2 linked regions of the Homo sapiens genome follow. The protein of the gene in region 1 purifies or fractionates together with the protein of each later gene. This does not show direct contact. Each region holds a gene or a part of one and is shown on either strand. Other genes may lie near its edges.

Region 1 (3,594 bases):
TTTTCCCAAAGAAATCCTTACATGAACTCCAAATTGTTAATTAGTTAAAGGAGTTCCAGTTGAAGGTGGTGGGGAAGGGGCAGGAGCAAATTGAAGTATTTCCCTTCATCTTCTCTGTCCCACTTTGCAGCCCCTGGGACACCAAGAGACTGATGCCTAAAGGTAAAGTCACTTGTTCAAAGTCACCCAGCAAGCTGATGAAAAAGCCTGCAGAACTGTGAATCGAATGTAGGTTTCTTAATTCCAGATACGTTGTTCTTTCCACACTGAGCTTTTTTCTATATAAAAGGAAGTACTATATATCATGGGTTTAAGTAAAGGAATACACACACACACACAAATAAACATAAATGCGAGGGGAAATGTCTAAACAGAACACACCACCTGATTAATATGAACATTATAGGGGAATAGAATTAGAAGGGAACCAGCAATTTTAACGACTGACAATGATCCTATGTGGATGAACCTATTTGAGAAATAACAATATTTGTTTTGTTTTGTTCTGTTTTTTGAGACAGAGTTTTGCTCTTGTTGCTCAGGCTGGAGTGCAATGGCACAATCTCGGCTCACTGCAACCTCTGCCTCCTGGGTTCAAGCGATTCTCCTGCCTCAGCCTCCCGAGTAGCTGGGATTACAGACGCATGCCACCATGCCCAGCTGATTTTGTATTTTTAGTAGAGACAGGGTTTCTCCATGTTGGTCAGGCTGGTCTTGAACTCCTGACCTCAGGTGATCCGCCCGCCTCGGCCTCCCAAAGTGCTGGGATTACAGGCATGAGCCACCGCGCCCAGCCAAGAAATAACAATATTTGTTATTTTGACTTTTTTAAAATGTGTATCACCTTGTTCTTTTTCTTTCTCTCCTTGAATATTTAAACATCTTCACTAACTGAACTAAGAAATTGAACTAACTCAACTATAAAACCGAGAGAGGGGGGTAAGTAAATAGTCTTTTCATGGGAACATGACAGAAAAACAGAAATAAGACATCTAGTGTTAGATCTAGTGTTAGAATTTGTCTAGCAAGCTTTCTGGTTTTGGCCAAAAAGCCACCCACCCACCCACCCTCCCAAAAAAAAGGAAAAAAAAAAAGTCAAGTGGGTTGTTTTTTCAGAGATGCTACCAAAAATGTAAAAAGGTAGAATAGCCCCCAGGTTTACTTAACAACTTCTGACTCCAAGCATCATGACATACAATATTTGGCCACAAAATATCTGTTACTCCTATGAGCAAGAATAATAAGTGTTGGTTGCTACAGAATCCTCTCTAGTATCCTGAAGTCTTTAACTACTTAGCACATGGAAAATCTAATGACTTATATATAGCTAAATACATCTATCCAATTATAAAATTTAGAAGCTGAAAGCTGGGGAGCACCTCCAAAGTTTAACGGATCCAGTCCCACTGCTTTCAGGGTAACTGTTCCAACACGGAGGATGACGGAGTGGCCTCAGACAATGTCTTAGAGTTACTGATAGATGCAGCATCATAGATTAACCCCAAATGTATTGTGCTAAGTGAAAGAAGCCAGACTGAAAGTCTATACACTGCATGCTTTCATTTATATGACATTTTGTAAAACATAGAACTGCAGGGACAGGAAATAGATCAGCAGTTGCAACCGACGAGGGTTGAGGGTAGGGTATCGATTACAAAAGAGCTGGGGGGGCACCTGGCACAGTAGCTCACGCCTGTAATCCCAACACTTTGGGAGGCCGAGGTGGGCAGATTGCCTGAGCTCAGAAGTTCGAGACCAGCCTGGGCAATATGGTGAGACCCTGCCTCTAGAAAGAAAAAGAAGGGAAAAAAAGAGCTTGGGGGAATTTTAGGGGATGATGGAAAAATTCTGTATCTTGATGATGGCAATGGTTACTTGACTATATGCATTTGTCAAAATTCATAGAACTGTATGCACTAAAAAGGGTGAATTTTACTGTACATAAATTATACCTGAATTATCTAACAAAAAAAAAAAAAGAGTGTTTTTGGTGAGACTGTGTGTGTGGACAGAAAGGCAGATGCTATCACTTTTTTGCTGGAGAGTCTCACGTTTCAATAAATGCCAGCAGTTCCCACACGGGGAATAGGCAGTTCCCCTAAACAGAGTCATTTCCCTGCTCCCACCTTCATTTCCACTAGTGGCCTGAGCTCCATCAGGCACAATGAAGGTCCCACTCAGGAAGGGCCAAGGTTCAGGAAGAGGGAGCAGAGGCGATGGGGTGGAGCAGCCCACTCTGTGGGCAGCAGAGAGGGCTGGGTAAAACGAAGCGGTTCATCCCTGAAGCTGCTCAGTCACTCCCTCGGTTAATTATCTGTCTTCTGATTCATGAGTTGTGGTTCCTGTGGGCATGCTTCCTGGAGATTTCTGCCAACAAGGGAAGAAGGGTTCTTGGGACTGGGAGGGGATGATAACCTCAGATCCCAAGTAGGGTGGGGAGCTTTAGAGGAGAAATTTCGATCAGGAAATTCTAAAGTCATAGCCAGACTCCCCCTCCTCACTGTGGTGTGCTTGCCCCATCTTATGGTCTTCCCAGGAGACCTCTGTCACTCCTCACCCTTGCCCCAACACCCACACGTCCAAGGGGGAGAAAGGAGAATGTTGCCCTTCTAACGGCTCCTCCCAGGAGGGAAAAAAAGGCAGACACTTTACAGAGGATCCCTTGAGTTTTTCACACTCTCAGATCACAGGTCTAAATGGTGCAACAGTGCAGCGGCCCAAATGCCCAAAGAATTCATGATCTTGGCTATGTTTTCATACCCTCCAGATTATCCAAACGGAGCACTTGAGGATCTTGTATGAATGAGTGCAAATATTCAAATATTGGGTTTCTTAAAGGGAGGCACATCATCTATAGATGCCTTTACATAGCATTCCACAGATATTTGTTTTGCTGCCTATGTGCCAGGCAGTGGGCATAGAGTATTGAACAAAATAGACATGTCCCTCTTCTCATGGAACTTGAAGTCTTATAGATCCTTTTATCTTCCTCTTTTTTCAGATACAGGGCTTGAGGTTTTCTTATGGGTAAAGCAAATGTATAAGCCTTTTTCCTTCTTGGCTTCTTCTGTGGATTCTTGCCGGGTTAGAGTAGCTGAGATATGCCAAACCAGCAATGAGGAACGAGTTGAAATAAGAGGGACCCCCTCTCACATATGTGGGGGAAAGGGACCCCATCAGTTTCATTCTGGAAGCCTGCATAGCGCATATGCATGAAGTAGTAACAGCTTTTGCCTCCAATACATGGCAGATAGCATGGATAGGAAGAATAATGACAATAGTAGTTGTCATTCATTAAACACTTATTTTGTGCCTCTGTTTCATTTAATCAGCATAATCATAGGCATTGTTTCCTCTGCCTTACAAATGAGGAAACTGAGGACTCAAGAGATTAGGTAACTTATTTAAGGCCACACAGCCTACAGGAGACAAAGTCAAGAATCAAACCCACATCTTACTGGCTTTAAACCATAGCCCTCCCTTTCCGAAGCCAACAAGCCTTCCTGCTGTGTTTCTCCAGGACCTGAGGATACCTGCAGAGGGCTTCGATTGGAGAGCTTCTAGGATATAAACTCCAGAAGAGAAATAAGCACC
Region 2 (3,594 bases), on another chromosome or scaffold:
AAGGGAGTATAAAGATAATGCTAGCTCTGTAGATGAGTGTCTTCCAAGGAAAGCCTGGCACTTTTCTCCCCGGTCATGGAAGAAAAGCAGCACTTAGGGGAGAAGCAGTGTCTGCATATGTCACATATCGGGAATACCTCTGCTGGACTCATGAATTCAGGTATTTCTGGGAGGTTCTGGGTTACTCTAGAGTAGGCGAGGAATCCCTAGGCTCCACCAGCTAGCTTTATTTTTGTAGAGATGGAGTCTTGCCATGTTGCTCAGGCTGGTCTCCTGGGTTCAAGCTATCTTCCCACCTTGGCCTCTCAAAGTACTGGGATTACAGGTGTGAGCCACTGCACCTGGCCTCCACCAGCTTACTTAGCACCTGCTTCTCAATCTGAGAAGAGAGAAGCAGATGACCTTAGATTGTTCTGGAGAGTTTTGCTACAAGTTTTCCTTATAGACATTGTACAGTGGTCCTTACCAGAAGGGAGTGCCCAAGTCTGTTTACATTCAGGCTCAGCACCTATCCAGAGTCCCAGCCATGAGCCAGGTGCTGTCTGAGGTGCGCTCATGTGATCCTCACAGTAAAACCTGTGATACAAGCAACACCGTATATCTAATTTATTTGACCACAGATTTAGAAAAGAATCTTTAAAACCTAATAACATACCACAGATGCATTTTGGTAAATGCTGCTTTAGATTATACTTTAGCTGAATCCATTAGTTGAATCCTAAGCTATAATATAATTTTAAGAACCTCCTTGCCTTTCAAGCCAAATAACCAAGGGACTTTCTCTCTCTCTTTCCCTCCCTCCCTTCCTTCCTTCCTTCCTTCTTCTCTCCCTCCCTTGTTATCTCTTTTCCTTTCCTTTCTCTCCTTCCTTCCCTCTTCCCTTTTTCCTTTCTCTCCTTCCTTCCTTCCTTGCTTCCTTCTTCCCTCCCTCCTTTGTTCTCTCTTTTCCTTTCCTTTCTCTTTTTCTTTCCTTCCTTCCTTCCTCACTCACTCTTTTCTTTTCCTTTCTCTCCTTCCTTCCTTCCTTCCTCCCTCCCTCACTCTCTCTTTTCTTTGCCTTTCTCTCCTTCCTTCCTTCCTTTTCCTCCCTCCCTCCCTCCCTTGTTCTCCCTTTTCCTTCCTTCCTTCTTTCCTTTCTTCCTTCCTTCCCTCTTCCCTCACTCTCTCTTTTCCTTTCTCTCCTTCCTTCCTTCCTTCATTCTCCCCTCCCCTCCCCCCTCCCCTCCCCCTCCCCTCCCCCCTCCCCCCCTCCCCTCCCCTTCCCTTCCCTTCCCATTTTTCTTCTCACCATGTTGCCCAGGCTTGCCTCAAACTCCTGGGCTCAAGTGTTTCTCTTCCACCTCAGCCTCCCAAGTAGCTGGGGCTACATGTGTGAGGCATCACAACCATGGACTTTTCACTTTCTTCACTCCAGGTTAAAAACATCACAGGGATAAATCTCAAAACACCAAAACTGTGAAAATGCTGCTAACCATGTGGGTCTGTCTAAACTGGAGTGTTACTTGTACAACTGGTTTCAGCCCCTCCGGAGTGTTTTGAATGCCATGTAGATGAGTTGTGAACTCATATTCCACTTTGTAGTCTCATATGTTCTGGGACACGAGCTATTCCATTCTGACTTCTTTCTGCCTCTTGCAGTTCCTTCATCCATTCTGGACTTGGTCGATGATCACCATGGCTCAACTGGGGGACAGACGGTGAGGTGCACAGCTGAAGGCACGCCGCTTCCTGATATTGAGTGGATGATATGCAAAGATATTAAGAAGTATGGAAAACAGATGTGTCTTCTTCTTTCGTGGTCAGAATATTTCTCCCTTGACACAAATGATGTCAAATACATTTTACTTATTGACTATAAGATAGGGTTTTGGGTGTGATAGCTTCAGGGTGTGTATCTTTTGTCATGAATAGCTGTGAGAAGAAGGTCCAGGGCTCTCATTAGACCTTCAAAATGTCTCCAATCTAAAAACAAGAGTGAATTTTAAGAACCACTGTTCTAAGAAGATTTTTACTACCCTGGCTCACATATCTTATTTGGTGAACTTTGTTTGGTAGTCGGACTGCATGTAAACATAAATGTGACTGCTTAGTCCCTTATCTGCCCACCTGCTGTTTGGTGGGTTAATTCGCCATTCCCTCCTCCCTCCCCCGAGTCCTCAGCCTTCTTAAATGGGCACATGAGCAATGTGTTTACACTTCATCCATGGTAACTGGTTGTGTTCAGAAGCCTCAGTTGTTTCTTCCTCTAGACAGAGACTCCTCATCTTAACTTCTAGGGCTAAGAACAGACTTGGATGTTGACTGGGGTTTCTAGTAGATTCCAGTGTGGAGCAGGATTCTAGGTCTTATAACTCAATCTGAGGATCATCGCAACCCTAGTGACACCCTAGGGGCTCTTCCCAGTGTGAGTGTTGAGAAGGGAGGGCTCCAGGCCTTTTTGAAGGGGTGGGAGATTGAGATCATTAAATATGGTTGAAGTTGAACTGTTCAGTTTGCTCATAGGTTCAAGATTGGGGAATGGTAGTCATATTTTATTAAACTTGATTATCTCTGCCTGCTATGTAAACACTTAGCTTTCAGTTGTTCATGTGTGAGTTATTCCCTCTTCAGCACATGCAGACAAGTTTTAATGTTCATCTGCATGTAAAATAAATCAGTGTGTATTGCCCCGAAATGCAGACAAGGTCCCAACTCCTTGCCATCTTAGAGTGTTCCCGTGGCTCCACTCATTGCCATGACTCTCAGGAATTGGCCCTATACTTAGGCCCTTTTTCTCTCTAGATGTAATAATGAAACTTCCTGGACTATTTTGGCCAACAATGTCTCAAACATCATCACGGAGATCCACTCCCGAGACAGGAGTACCGTGGAGGGCCGTGTGACTTTCGCCAAAGTGGAGGAGACCATCGCCGTGCGATGCCTGGCTAAGAATCTCCTTGGAGCTGAGAACCGAGAGCTGAAGCTGGTGGCTCCCAGTGAGTTCCTCAACAGTCAGGACAACTCATCAGCTGAGCCGCATCTGCCCCAGGCGGAACTTTGAATCCCAGATAGGGGTTATATAGAAATGAAGGTCCCAAGGCAGAAATTCAGTTATGAATGCTCTTAAAGTCATGTGGGACTTTGTTTTATTTTGTTTTGTTTTTTGAGACAGAGTTTTGCTCTGTGGCCCAGGCTGGAGTGCAATGGCACAATATTGGCTCACTGCAACCTCTACCTAGGACGTTGTTTTAGATTCAGATCCAAAACTGCATTTTTGCAGAGGCCCCTCAACATTTTGCTTGTCTAATAATATAGCTACAGTCTCTACTTTGAATGTCTGTGTATGTGGATGGAGTGTGGGGAAGGATCTTCTGTCTCATTGCTCCTTAAAAGATAGATGAAGCCAAAAGCAATATAAGCAAAATGCAACTTACAAAATAAGCTTTATAATAAAGCATATGAAGTAGAGGTGTCTGCCCATATAGTAGCTGTCAATTGCATTTATCCTATTCAAATTCTGTCCACAAGGTTACTGTTGGAGCAACTTTGGAGAAAATACTGAGTTCTCCTGATTGAATTTTGTCCCCTTCTTGTATAAGGAAAGAGTTGATGTAG

Evidence for each region. Proteins that work in one complex are often made in the same cells at the same time.
Region 2: the proteins of ITGB3 (region 1) and PDGFRA purify together in Homo sapiens (affinity purification with western blotting, with the first as the bait; one study listed by BioGRID). This does not show direct contact.

Annotation. Positions count from the first base shown.
Region 1 is NC_000017.11:47,256,820-47,260,413, reverse strand, and holds part of ITGB3 (integrin beta-3 precursor), read right to left. Parts: intron 1-3,594. UniProt on the Homo sapiens protein: Integrin alpha-V/beta-3 (ITGAV:ITGB3) is a receptor for cytotactin, fibronectin, laminin, matrix metalloproteinase-2, osteopontin, osteomodulin, prothrombin, thrombospondin, vitronectin and von Willebrand factor.
Region 2 is NC_000004.12:54,270,756-54,274,349, forward strand, and holds part of PDGFRA (platelet-derived growth factor receptor alpha isoform 1 precursor), read left to right. Parts: intron 1-1,638; coding exon 1,639-1,765; intron 1,766-2,781; coding exon 2,782-2,975; intron 2,976-3,594. UniProt on the Homo sapiens protein: Tyrosine-protein kinase that acts as a cell-surface receptor for PDGFA, PDGFB and PDGFC and plays an essential role in the regulation of embryonic development, cell proliferation, survival and chemotaxis.